Regions from separate parts of the Homo sapiens genome. Here all the other regions are reported to be linked to region 4. The links are microRNA targets in miRTarBase. Many come from high-throughput screens and were not tested one by one. Region 4 holds a microRNA gene; each other region holds the end of a gene's coding sequence.

What was found. Region 4 holds the annotated microRNA hsa-miR-944 (AAAUUAUUGUACAUCGGAUGAG, at 2,222-2,243, opposite strand). A microRNA usually pairs through its seed, bases 2 to 8, with sites in the 3' UTR of a target mRNA and lowers its output. Matches are read on the target gene's strand: a 7mer-m8 pairs with bases 2 to 8, a 7mer-A1 pairs with bases 2 to 7 and ends in A, and an 8mer does both.
Region 1: miRTarBase lists SPDL1 as a target of hsa-miR-944. Seed matches in the 3' UTR shown: 7mer-A1 at 888-894.
Region 2: miRTarBase lists SLC25A40 as a target of hsa-miR-944. Seed matches in the 3' UTR shown: 7mer-m8 at 592-598, 7mer-m8 at 1,495-1,501, 7mer-m8 at 2,373-2,379 and 7mer-m8 at 2,468-2,474.
Region 3: miRTarBase lists CMPK1 as a target of hsa-miR-944. Seed matches in the 3' UTR shown: 7mer-m8 at 1,736-1,742.

Annotation. Positions count from the first base shown.
Region 1 is chr5:169,603,567-169,606,816 of GRCh38, forward strand. SPDL1 (spindle apparatus coiled-coil protein 1) reads left to right here. Exons shown (of 12, transcript NM_017785.5): 12 at 494-1,212. The coding sequence ends at 641. Among named protein-coding and RNA genes, the nearest start is that of SPDL1, 21 kb to the left of the region's middle.
Region 2 is chr7:87,833,467-87,836,716 of GRCh38, reverse strand. It overlaps SLC25A40 (solute carrier family 25 member 40), which reads left to right. Exons shown (of 12, transcript NM_018843.4): 12 at 356-3,149. The coding sequence ends at 468. Among named protein-coding and RNA genes, the nearest start is that of SLC25A40, 41 kb to the left of the region's middle.
Region 3 is chr1:47,376,328-47,379,577 of GRCh38, forward strand. It overlaps CMPK1 (cytidine/uridine monophosphate kinase 1), which reads left to right. Exons shown (of 6, transcript NM_016308.3): 6 at 377-2,512. The coding sequence ends at 418. Among named protein-coding and RNA genes, the nearest start is that of FOXE3, 38 kb to the right of the region's middle.
Region 4 is chr3:189,829,218-189,832,217 of GRCh38, reverse strand. MIR944 (microRNA 944) reads right to left here and starts at 2,296; the gene lies at 2,209-2,296. All of the region lies in intron 4 of TP63 (tumor protein p63), which reads right to left.

The DNA.
Region 1 (3,250 bases), not on the chromosome of region 4:
AATAATTGGCCCAGCGTGGTGCCTCACACCTGTAATCCCGGCACTTTGGGAGGCTGAGGCAGGTGGATCACGAGGTCAAGAGATCAAGACCATCCTGACCAACGTGGTGAAACCCTGTCTCTACTAAAAATACGAAAATTAGCTGCATGTGGGGGTGCGCACCTATAGTCCCAGCTACTCCGGTGGCTGAGGCAGGAGAATCGCTTGAACCCGGGAGGCGGAGGTTGCAGTGAGCCGAGATCATGCCACTGCGCTCCAGCCTGGTGACAGAGTGAGACTCTGTCTCAAAAAGTAATAATAACAATAATTGAGCCTATTGATATAAAAAGACTTTTAGACAGCCAGTGACTTAATATTCTTACAGTATTAGAGTCAACTATATTTTTTTTCCTTGAATACCATGCCTTATTGGAGGCCCATTATACTGGGGGTTTGTTTCTTCAATCCTTCATAACCACATTTGAATTCAGAGTGGATGCTTTAATGCCTGTAGGTTAGCTGCTGAATCAAAGCTTCAAACAGAAGTTAAAGAAGGAAAAGAAACTTCAAGCAAATTGGAAAAAGAAACTTGTAAGAAATTACACCCTATTCTATATGTGTCTTCTAAATCTACTCCAGAGACCCAGTGCCCTCAACAGTAAAGACTTGTCTTTAATAAGAGTACGGTGCCACTTGCCTCAAAAGTTACTATGGTGCTTAAGATTGTCTTGATCTGACATATATCACCTTCTGGGTTATTTACTCATTGTGCCAGGACCTGGCATTTTCATGTGCCTTTGACCAAGTGTTCAGAATTTGCTTGACTCTAACCTGGAGAGCTTCTTAAGTGATGCCCCTTCATGGAGCTTCTATGACAGTGAATAAACTATTAATTGAAGGAAAATGTTATAATTAATGTATCTATTTGCTGCATTGTATATGGATTAAATGATAAAAAACAAGTAATCTACCCTCAGAGCCATGTATTTGAGAATGCTTCAATCATATTTTCCTATGTACTTTTTTTTATAAACTTAGTTTTAGACTATGTTGTAAAAATGGGAAGGTTGTAAACTATGTTGTAAAAATAGGAAATGTGGCTTAAAATATATACATTATATTGTTTCAGGATTTTGTCAGTGTTTAAAGAACCAATGTTCATCTTTGTATTTATATACATGATTTAAATTTTGTCTAAAATTTTAAATAAAACTGCAGTGATTTATCCTTAAATTTCTTACTCTCTATAGGTAACAGGATGTTATCAAAAGGGAGTAAAAAGCACTTTGGGAGGCTGAGGCGGGTGGATCGCTTGAGCCCAGGAATTCGAGACCAGCCTGGGCTACATGGCAAAACCCCATATCTACAAAAAAATACAAAAAATTAGCTGGGCATGATGGTGCACACCTGTAGTCCCAGCTACTCTGGAGGCTGAGGTGATAGGATCATCTGAGCCCAGTAAGGAGGTCGAGGCTGTAGTTGAGCTGTGATCATACTACTGCACTCCAGCCTGGGCAACACAGCAAGACCCTGTCTCAAAAAAAAGTGGGGGAAATAAATAAGAGGAAAAAAGAAACCTCAGGAATTCTTAATTCCCTTATGTATAATTTTATATATAATTTTATGGTTAATTATATGTACATATACAGATGGTCTCTGACATAACAATGGTTTGACTTAATGATTTTTCGACTTTTCAGTGGTACAAAGACAGTATGCATTCAGTAGAAACTGTACTTCAAGTACCCATATGACCATTCTGTTTCTCACTTTCAGTACAGTACTCAATAAATCACATAAGATATTCAACACTTTATGACAAAATAGACTTTGTGTTAGATGATTTTGCCCAGTAGTAAACCAATGTAAGTTTTCTGAGCACATTTAAGGCAGGCTAGGCTGAGCTATAATGTTCATTAGGTTAGGTGTATTAAATGCATTTTTGACTTAATATTTTCAACTTATGGGTATATCGAATTGTAACCCCGTTGTAGGTCAAGGAGCATCTGCATATATACATACATAGATGATAGATAGATAGATAGATAGATAGATAGATAGATAGATTTAATTCTAAACTTTCCAAATACTCTTTCATTTAAATGATTATAGTTTTACAACAATTTCATATATTCTATAGGTAGGAGAATTAGGGTTTTCCAGAGAAATAGAACCAATAGGATGTGTGTGTATATAAAGATTTACTTTCAAGAATTGGTTCACATGGTTGTGGGGGCAAGTCCAAACTTGTAGGGTGGGCCAGCAGACTGGAGACCAGGGAAGGGAAGAGCTGATGAGTTCAAGTCCGAAAGCCATCACACTAAAGACCCAGGGAGATAACTGCCACTGCAGTTCAAGTTCAAAGGCTGTCTGCATCAGAATTTCCCTTTGCTGGGGTAGGTGAGTCTTTCCATCTAGGACTTCAATTCATTGGATGAAACCCATTCACATTAGAGAAGGCAATCTGCTTTAAGTCCACTGATTTAAATGCTGATCTCACCCAAAAACATCCTCACAGAAACGTTCAGAATAACACTATAAAGCAATTAGACCTAAAGAAATATGTAGCATACTCCACCCAAAGGAGAATACACCTTCTTAAGTGTACACAGAACATTGTGCAAAACAGACCAATGTTATGCCACAAATCTGGTCTCAATAAATTTTAAAAGTTGAAAAAGTATCTCGACTACAATGGAATGAAATTAAAAATCAACAACAAGAAAATCTGGAGAATTCACAAATACTATGTAGAAATAAAACAATACACTCTTTAAACAGCAGATGAATCAAAGAAGAAATCACTAGGGAAATATTTTGAAGATGAATTTTAAAATATTTTAAAATGAGTGAAAATGAAAACACAACAATAACAAAACTTGTTAAGTGTAGCGAAAGCAAAAGCCCTCAGTGGGGAATTTATATTTGGAGATGCCTACATTTTAAAAAAGAAAGCTCTCAAACTAATAACCTAACTTTATACTTTGAGGAACTAAAACAAGAAGAGAAAACTAAAAAGCTAAATCCACGGCCAGCAGAAGGAAGAAAATAAGAGATGAGAACAAAAACAAATGAAATTGAGAACACGAAAACAATGGAATCTATGGAACCTAAAGTTTGTTCTTTGAAAAAATCAAAATTAATAAACTTTTAGCTAGACTGATCAAGGAAAAAGGAGAAAAGACTCAAATTACTAAAATAAGGAATGGAAGTAGGGACAATACTGTCAATCTTATAGAAGTAAAAGGGGTTATGAGAGAACGCTATAAAC
Region 2 (3,250 bases), not on the chromosome of region 4:
CTTTACCGAATCATTGAATAGAATGATTACTTTTAAAATATTACCTTCTAAAATTAACTTATAGGAGGAAGTTATAGGTAACATACTACATTTATTTTCTCCTAAATATCTTTATTATAAGTTAAAATAAATGTTAAATAAAAGATTTACTATCAATAAGATAAAAATTTCTCTATAATGTAATATGGATTGAAGTGAGGATGTTGGAAGTGAGCAGTCTTTTCTACCAATTTATGGATTTGAACATATTACTTCATTTAATTTGATAATTATCAGAATAAAGCCAAAAAATAATATTTTTAAAAATAAGGTAAGAAAAAAATATTTGTTTTGATTATTCCTATTCTTTTCTCAGGCCTAATTCCTCGCTTAATTAAAATTGCTCCTGCTTGTGCCATTATGATCAGTACATATGAATTTGGAAAGGCTTTTTTCCAGAAACAAAATGTTCGAAGGCAGCAATACTAGTGATGCTGTTTCAACTTGAAACAACAACTATAGCCAAAGAAGATGGAGACTCTTAGGCAAGAATGTTTTTCACCATTATTCTCTCACAATGATTTTATGTCTTTCTTTCCTATAATTTAAATAAATAATTTCAGCTCTACCTCTAAATCATAATTTTAAAATAAATTTTATCTTATTTTTGGTGATATTGAAAAAGATATTCTAGAAATCACCACCATTGAGCATTCTTGTAAAAATAGATTACTCCTTAGCATCAAAAGCAGTCTCTTGAAAGTTTAATATTATATGTTTCAGTGTAACATAATCTTACTGGGAGTGTGTTGAATACACCAGAACTTTTTGAATTGTGTGCTGAATGATGTACATAGTCTAGAAGAAAAAAGCCCAAGTCTTGTGCACATTTAAATCGTGTACATAAGTATTTCCGTATTTCAGTAAAGTAGATAAAGCACTCGTTAAATAGCATTGTTTACATCGACCAAATATTGCCTGTTTCCTTTAATTCAAATGCATTAGGTTCCCGCCTCCCTCTCCTTCCCCGCCATGTTGCTGTTTTAAGGCTTCATATGTATTAACATTTCTCTGATCAAAATTGTGGCTGTTTTCCTTATGAACCATAATATAATCATTTGTGTGATGTACATTGTGCCATTTTTGATGACTAAATGTCTATATTTCTGCCATTCCTGTAAGAGAGGGAGTTTTTTACTGATAGTAGCAAATGTTCACTTCAGTCAAACTTGGGTGTTCAGTGGTAAACCATATAGTATTTAGACTGGTAAAAATAGTTTGCACACAGGAATAGCCTCTGATTTTTAGCTCTCTTGTAATCCAAGTATCATTGTTCATGGAATTCTCTAGGTCATTTTTATTGTGTTGTTCTAACAAGACAGATTATTGCTACAACAATAGTTACAAGATATTTCTAAAATATCCTTTGATTTTTACTCTAAGTATGGTAGAGTAAGAGGCTAAACAAGAAGCTGTTTCCTTGAAGACATTGCTTTCAGTCACCATACATGTCTAAATAATTTAGCTTATCATTCATTCTATGTAGGAATGAGATAAGAAAGGATATGATGGCAGGAAAAGAAATGCTATTCATTTTTTATACTTTAGTTTTATTTTCTTAGGATCTATATCCTATATATATATATTTTTTAAAGCACTAATTTATTGCAGTCTTTATTTTAGAAAAATGTGAAGCATTTTTTTCTCCCCTAAAATGAATATATTTAGATGACAAGTCTTTAGTGCTGGTAGAGGAACTAATTGATTTTGTACTATAGTAGGAAAGTGTTTATATGTTTCACCAGAAATAAAATATGTAGGGTTTGTATGTAATCTTCTGTGTTTATCCTATGTTGATTTACCTTAAATTTGCAACATACATATCCACATAAATATTCATGACTTTCTTATATTTCATTAAAATGTTTTATGGCTTCTTAAAATCATCACTGTGCTTCTAAATATTTTTACGTAAAATCATTGTATAATGCTATACTGTGATATACATGAAAGTTTATCTTGAACAGTGCTCTTTAACAATATTAAATTTAAATTTATCTTGGTTTTGCTATGCTTATGGGTAATTCATAGAAAACAGAAAAAATACTGTTCCCAAAAGGCAGTTATATATTTCAGTTTAATATCACCTATAAGTATGAGAAAGGTTTCCATGTCTCCTACCCCTCACTGCACTTAGGAAAATTCTTATTTATGAATAAAGTAAGATAAGTAAATCTAATTGCCTAGTCGTTTTTTTAACACATATACATGCAATGTATCTGGATGAATAGAAGGCTGAATTGAAGCTTTCTTTATATTTAAGAGGTAAAAAGAAATATTAATACTTTTAAAATATACTAACAACCAAAAAGTGTTCAGAATTTTGCTATAATAATAATTTGTATTAAAATAGTACCTAGAAAAATTCAGTCTATGGAATAGGTAAAATTTTAAAATTTTAATTTGCTCTCAGAGTTCTGTCTGATAAAATAATTGAACTATAATTGGCATGATGAATATTCCCAGGTTTTACTTCAGTATATAAATTTAACTCTCAGCCACATGGGCTTTCCAGACTTTTCAATACATATGATGTTGCAGGAATTGCAATATTTGCAAACATGTGCCACAACAGTGTTCTTGGTGATGTTTCTAAAACAGTTTTTATTCTATTAATGTTAAATTTTCTAACATAAACATTTAATTGATTAATGTAAAATTTTAGGAAGGAACATCTTTAATTTTCAATATGAGATGGTTGCAACCTTTAAAGTAGTACATATTTGATTTTTTTTAAAAGGCAATATTTTTTTTTCTAGGAAAACTATTCATTATGGTTATTTAACTGCATATGTTTTTTAAATTTTTCCCTCTTGGAACAACATGTACTGGGGCCTATCAAAGGGTGGAGGGTGGGAGGAGGGAGAGGAACAGGAAAAATAACTAATGGGTACTAGGCTTAATACCTGGGTGATGAAATAATCTGTATAATAAATCCCCATGACACAAAAGTTTACCTGTGTAACAAACCTGCATATGTACCCCTAAACTTAAATTCTTCCCTCTTTTTGTCTTGGGCACAAGTTTTTGGGATATGGAAAAGTTTATTGTATCCCTTTTGAATTTTCTTCTAAGATGAACTTTTTAAATAAAAGATATTACTGCTTTTATATTTAATCTGTCAACATTTATTGGGACATTTTATGTAGTAGGCAGTATATAAAAAGCACTGGAGATGATAAGATATTTCAGATATTGTTACTGGCCACAG
Region 3 (3,250 bases), not on the chromosome of region 4:
TTTTTTGAGACAGTGTCTCACTCTGTTGCCCAGGCTGGAGTGCAATGGTGTGATCTCAGCTCACTGCAACCTCCGTCTCCTGGGTTCAAGTAATTCTCCTGCCTCAGCCTCCTGGGTAGCTGGGATTACAGGTGCCCGCCACCACGCCTGGCTGATTTTTGTATTTTTAGTAGAGACGGGGTTTTGCCATGTTGGCCAGGCTGGTCTTGAACTCCTGAACTCAAGTGATCTGCCCGCCTCGACCTCCCAAAGTGCTGGGATTACAGATGTGAGCCACCGCGCCCCGCCAAATTTGATTATTTTTAATAAGAACTTAGCTGTATGGTATTTTAACAGTACCTGCTTTTAAAATTATTATCATCTTTTTCCTTTACAGGTTTTTGATGAAGTTGTGCAGATTTTTGACAAGGAAGGCTAATTCTAAACCTGAAGGCATCCTTGAAATCATGCTTGAATATTGCTTTGATAGCTGCTATCATGACCCCTTTTTAAGGCAATTCTAATCTTTCATAACTACATCTCAATTAGTGGCTGGAAAGTACATGGTAAAACAAAGTAAATTTTTTTATGTTCTTTTTTTTGGTCACAGGAGTAGACAGTGAATTCAGGTTTAACTTCACCTTAGTTATGGTGCTCACCAAACGAAGGGTATCAGCTATTTTTTTTAAAATTCAAAAAGAATATCCCTTTTATAGTTTGTGCCTTCTGTGAGCAAAACTTTTTAGTACGCGTATATATCCCTCTAGTAATCACAACATTTTAGGATTTAGGGATACCCGCTTCCTCTTTTTCTTGCAAGTTTTAAATTTCCAACCTTAAGTGAATTTGTGGACCAAATTTCAAAGGAACTTTTTGTGTAGTCAGTTCTTGCACAATGTGTTTGGTAAACAAACTCAAAATGGATTCTTAGGAGCATTTTAGTGTTTATTAAATAACTGACCATTTGCTGTAGAAAGATGAGAAAACTTAAGCTTTGTTTTACTACAACTTGTACAAAGTTGTATGACAGGGCATATTCTTTGCTTCCAAGATTTGGGTTGGGGGCACTAGGGGTTCAGAGCCTGGCAGAATTGTCAGCTTTAGTCTGACATAATCTAAGGGTATGGGGCAAGGATCACATCTAATGCTTGTGTTCCTTATACTCTATTATATAGTGTTATTCATGATTCAGCTGATCTTAACAAAATTCGTAGCAGTGGAACCTTGAAATGCATGTGGCTAGATTTATGCTAAAATGATTCTCAGTTAGCATTTTAGTAACACTTCAAAGGTTTTTTTTTGTTTGTTTTCTAGACTTAATAAAAGCTTAGGATTAATTAGAAGAAGCAATCTAGTTAAATTTCCCATTTGTATTTTATTTTCTTGAATACTTTTTTCATAGTTATTTGTTTAAAAAGATTTAAAAATCATTGCACTTTGGTCAGAAAAATAATAAATATATCTTATAAATGTTTGATTCCCTTCCTTGCTATTTTTATTCAGTAGATTTTTGTTTGGCATCATGTTGAAGCACCGAAAGATAAATGATTTTTAAAAGGCTATAGAGTCCAAAGGAATATTCTTTTACACCAATTCTTCCTTTAAAAATCTCTGAGGAATTTGTTTTCGCCTTACTTTTTTTTCTTCTGTCACAATGCTAAGTGGTATCCGAGGTTCTTAATATGAGATTTAAAATCTTAAAATGTTTCTTATTTTCAGCACTTACATCATTTGGTACACAGGGTCAAATAGGGCAAATAATTTTGTCTTTGTATAATAGATTTGATATTTAAAGTCACTGGAAATAGGACAAGTTAATGGATGTTTTTATATTTTAATAGAATCATTTATTTCTATGTGTTATGAAATTCACTTAATGATAAATTTTTCAACATACTTGCCATTAGAAAACAAAGTATTGCTAAGTACTATAACATATTGGCCACTAAAATTCATATTGAGATTATCTTGGTTTCTTGGAAGAGATAGGAATGAGTTCTTATCTAGTGTTGCAGGCCAGCAAATACAGAGGTGGTTTAATCAAACAGCTCTAGTATGAAGCAAGAGTAAAGACTAAGGTTTCGAGAGCATTCCTACTCACATAAGTGAAGAAATCTGTCAGATAGGAATCTAAATATTTATAGTGAGATTGTGAAAGCAACCTTAAAGTTTTGAAGAAGACTGATGAGACTAGGTGCTTTGCTTCCTTTCATCAGGTATCTTTCTGTGGCATTTGAGAACAGAAACCAAGAAACATGGTAATTACTAAATTATGAGGCTTTGCTTTTTGTTTGCTTTTAAGTAGAAAAACATGTTGGCAACATTGAGTTTTGGAGTTGATTGAGATAATATGACTTAACTAGTTTTGTCATTCCATTTGTTAAAGATACAGTCACCAAGAATGTTTTGAGTTTTTTGAAAGACCCCAATTTAAGCCTTGCTTATTTTTAAATTATTTCCATTCAGTGATGTTGGATGTATATCAGTTATTTAGTAAATAATCTCAATAAATTTTGTGCTGTGGCCTTTGCTATTTGTTGGTTTAGATTTCTGTTCTCTAAGCATATTGAAGATCAAGAAGTATCCTATTTAACATGTGGGTCCTCACACTACAAAAGCAGAGTTCAGGACTGTCGATGCAAAGAGTCAAACTCTGTAAAATATTTGAAGAGATTTATTCTAAGCCAAATATGAGTGATGAGTGGCTTGTGACACAGCCCTTAGGAGATCCTGAGAACAAGTGCATACAGTGGTCGGTGTGCAGCTTGTTTTTATACATTTTAGGGAGACATGAGACATCAGACAATACATGTAAGATGTATACATGGTTCAGTCCAGAAAGGTGGGACAACTGGAAGCAGGTGTGGGGAAAGCTTCCAAGCCTTAGGCAGATTTAAAGATTTTCTGATTGGCAATTGGTTGAAAGAGTTACTATAAATAGAAAGGAACGTCTAGGTTGATACAAGGTTTGTTGGAGACCAAGGTTTTATCATGCAGATGAAGCCTTCAGGTAGCAGGCTTCAGAGAAAATAGACTGTAAATGCTTCTTATTAAGAGTGTGTTCTATCAGTAATTTCAAAAGGGAGGAGAAGTATAATGAGGCATGTCTGGCTCTCCCTTCCCCATGATGGCCTGAAACTGGTTTTTCAGATGAACTCTGGAATGCCCTTGGCCTAGAGGAAGGGTCCATTCAGATGGTTGTGGGGGCGCTTAGAATTTTATTTTTGCTTTACAGGATTGAGGAAAATTTTTCATCCTGTTTTTGTGTTTT
Region 4 (3,000 bases):
GTCATTTAGAAAAACCCCAAGAGGAGAAAAAAAATTAGGATGCTGACATCATCTGAAGATTCATTTCCCTCTATTAAAAGCATTATAGTGCTGGGCGTGGTGGATCATGCCTGTAATCCTAGCACTTTGGGAGGCCAAGGCAGGTGGATGATGAGGTCAGGCGTTCAAGACCAGCCTGACCAACATGGTGAAACCCTGTCTCTACTACAAATACAAAAATTAGGCGGGAGTGGTGGTGCATGCCTATAATCCCAGCTACTCAGGAGGTTGGGGCAGGAGAATCACTTGAACCCTGGAGGCGGAGGTTGCAGTGAGCCGAGATATCACGCCACCGCCCTCCAGCCTGGGTGACAGAGTGAGACTCCGTCTCAAAAAAAAAAAAAAAAAAAAAAAAAAAAAGAGCATAATAGCTTTCATGGCACATCAAGTTCTGGGACAAAAATTACACTGCCAGCTCTATGTGTTATAAATCAAAACCTACTACTTATCAGCCAAATACCACTTTAATTACAGTGTTCTCGTATTAGAGAAAGAAGATTAGGAAGGGTAGGAGCTCAAACGGTGCAGAATGGGAAGAGCTTCATGCTGCTATCATCAAATGAGCACCTGGCCAGAAAATCAGAGTCTGAACTCCACCATCTAGTAGCCTAAAGACTGGGGTTTGTCACTTTACCTGTGAGCTTCCGTGTCCTCATCCTCAACATGAAGATGAAGATAACAACACTGAACTTGGAGTGTGGTTGTGAAGCTCGAATGATATCATGGAAATGAAAATGACCTGTGCATATAAATGTATAAATAAAATCAGTATTTAAAAAGTAAATTAAGAAATACCCTCACAGCAAATTAGAAAACTGTCTGCCTATTTAATCTGCCCTCTGCAATAGATTTATAAAGTCAATCGATTAGACGGAAAATAAATAAGGATCAATAACCAACTCAAGTAGAAATATTTAAGAAAGAATGCAGGACCCAAGGAACCTCAAACAGCAGATTTCAATTAGGATCCTCCACATCAAAATTATAAGTGCTTTTGTTGTTGTCACAGATAGTGCAAGTCTGTTCTCACCTCATGAGACTCTGAACCCCTATGGGTTTTTATTTGAGGGGAAGTTGGCAGCATTGGCACTGGGAAGATAAACCACACCAACAACAGAAATACAGGCTGCCCTCGCAGTTACTACTTCTGGCCCATCTCATCCAGCAAAAGCTGGTAGAGGAACTTTGGTGTTTTTCCATTTCCCTAGTATTGTAGTGAGATAATTTTACACATTTGCAAACCTTAAATAATCCTACACAACTCCTTTGTGTTTAAATTGCCCTAGACCTTATAGGTGAGGTTTATTCTCCCTTTACATATTCATTCCCTTCTTCAAACAATATTTACTAAGTGTCTATATGCTCCCTTCCTCCTTCAAAGTCCCAAAGAAATTTAATAGTATCTTTATTTTTTCTTGCGTCACATATTAATTTTTCTGTTATGATAATTATGGGCCTTTATTTGTCTTCCCTGCCAAGAGACTATACATTTCTAAATGGAGACCTTACCTTATCCATCTTTTACTCAAGTGACAGGCATAATAAAACAACAGCAGCAGCAACAAAATTGCGTGTTATGTAAACAGAAATGATACTTGTGTAAAACAAGTAAATGAATATATTTGAGATAAGCATATCATTGTGGTTTGTGATGAAAACTCACTATGATGAAAGGAAAAGTGATGACTTTCAACTCCTGTTAGTAAACTGGAGGTTTTTCAGTCCAATAAAATTAATGCTGATATCCAATTTCCAATGGTTTCAGGATATACATTTTTTTTCAAATTTTATAGAATGAATTTTGTCTCTATCCCTTGCCATGAAAATCAGAGTTGCAGTAAGTCAAATTGAAGGTAGATGTGTTTTGTTTTGTTTTGTTTTTCAAACACACAAATTATCAATCTTTTGTATCAGGAACTCTGGCAGACTGTTACAACGGTAGCTCCTGACTACAATTTGTAAAGGTCTAGCTTTTTTCACTAGACAGATTCTCCTAGTCAGATCTCAAATCTGAACTCCAGATATACTTGAACTGTGTTTCTATAACCAACAGTCCAATGCTCTCTCACCAAAGCCCCATTCCCCATCCTATTCCAACCCTACTAAATGACCGTTGGCCTTTCTTTCCAGTGTTCAAGAAAATGAAGGTTACAGTGGAGCTAATACTTAATCCCAGACACAGCTCATCCGATGTACAATAATTTCTCTTTATACAATTTAAGAAAATATTGTATATCAGATGAGATGTGTCTGGAACATAAATACAAATTTACTGCAGAAAAATTGTTTATCTTGGTTGAAAAAAATTAAGGTTATATTGGTCTGGTAATGAAATAATTAAAAGGGCTAATATTTGAAAAAAACTGTCAGCAGTATAGAAATCTTTGAAACTGAATTTGTTAGTTGGTGAAAAAGTAATGGCAAAACCTGCAATTATTTTTGCACCAACCAAATAGTTAGAAGTGAAGTAAATTTTTATTTTTCTTTAAGAGCTCCAAACTTTCCAGAATCTTTTTCTCTTCTAAGTCCTCGCCAGACTCTAGGCTTTTAGTACCCTGCTCCTCCAAATCTAGTCTCTGCCCATTCCTTAGTTCCAAAGCTGTTTCCACATTTTCAGTGAAATAAACTTTCATAGAAGCCATTCCAAATACTTCCAGTTATAACTCTAAAATAACACGTGCTGTTCTCCAGCTCTTCCACTTCCTCCCCTAAGATCTGAGACAAATAATCCAGTAGACATATAGGGAAAGTAGATTTTCTAAGAATTGATAGTTGGATGCTAACTTGTTTACATGGGTCTAGTTTTCAGAATAAATGCTTAAAACTCATATTTAGTGTCAATTAGGGCAATCTCTGTAGTGTATTGCTCAGAAACAGCATGTTCAAGGCATGAAAGCAGGAAGAAACATTTAAATGATTTCCTGAATCCTCTTTTAAGATGGTTGGGTCTTGGGTCTGTAG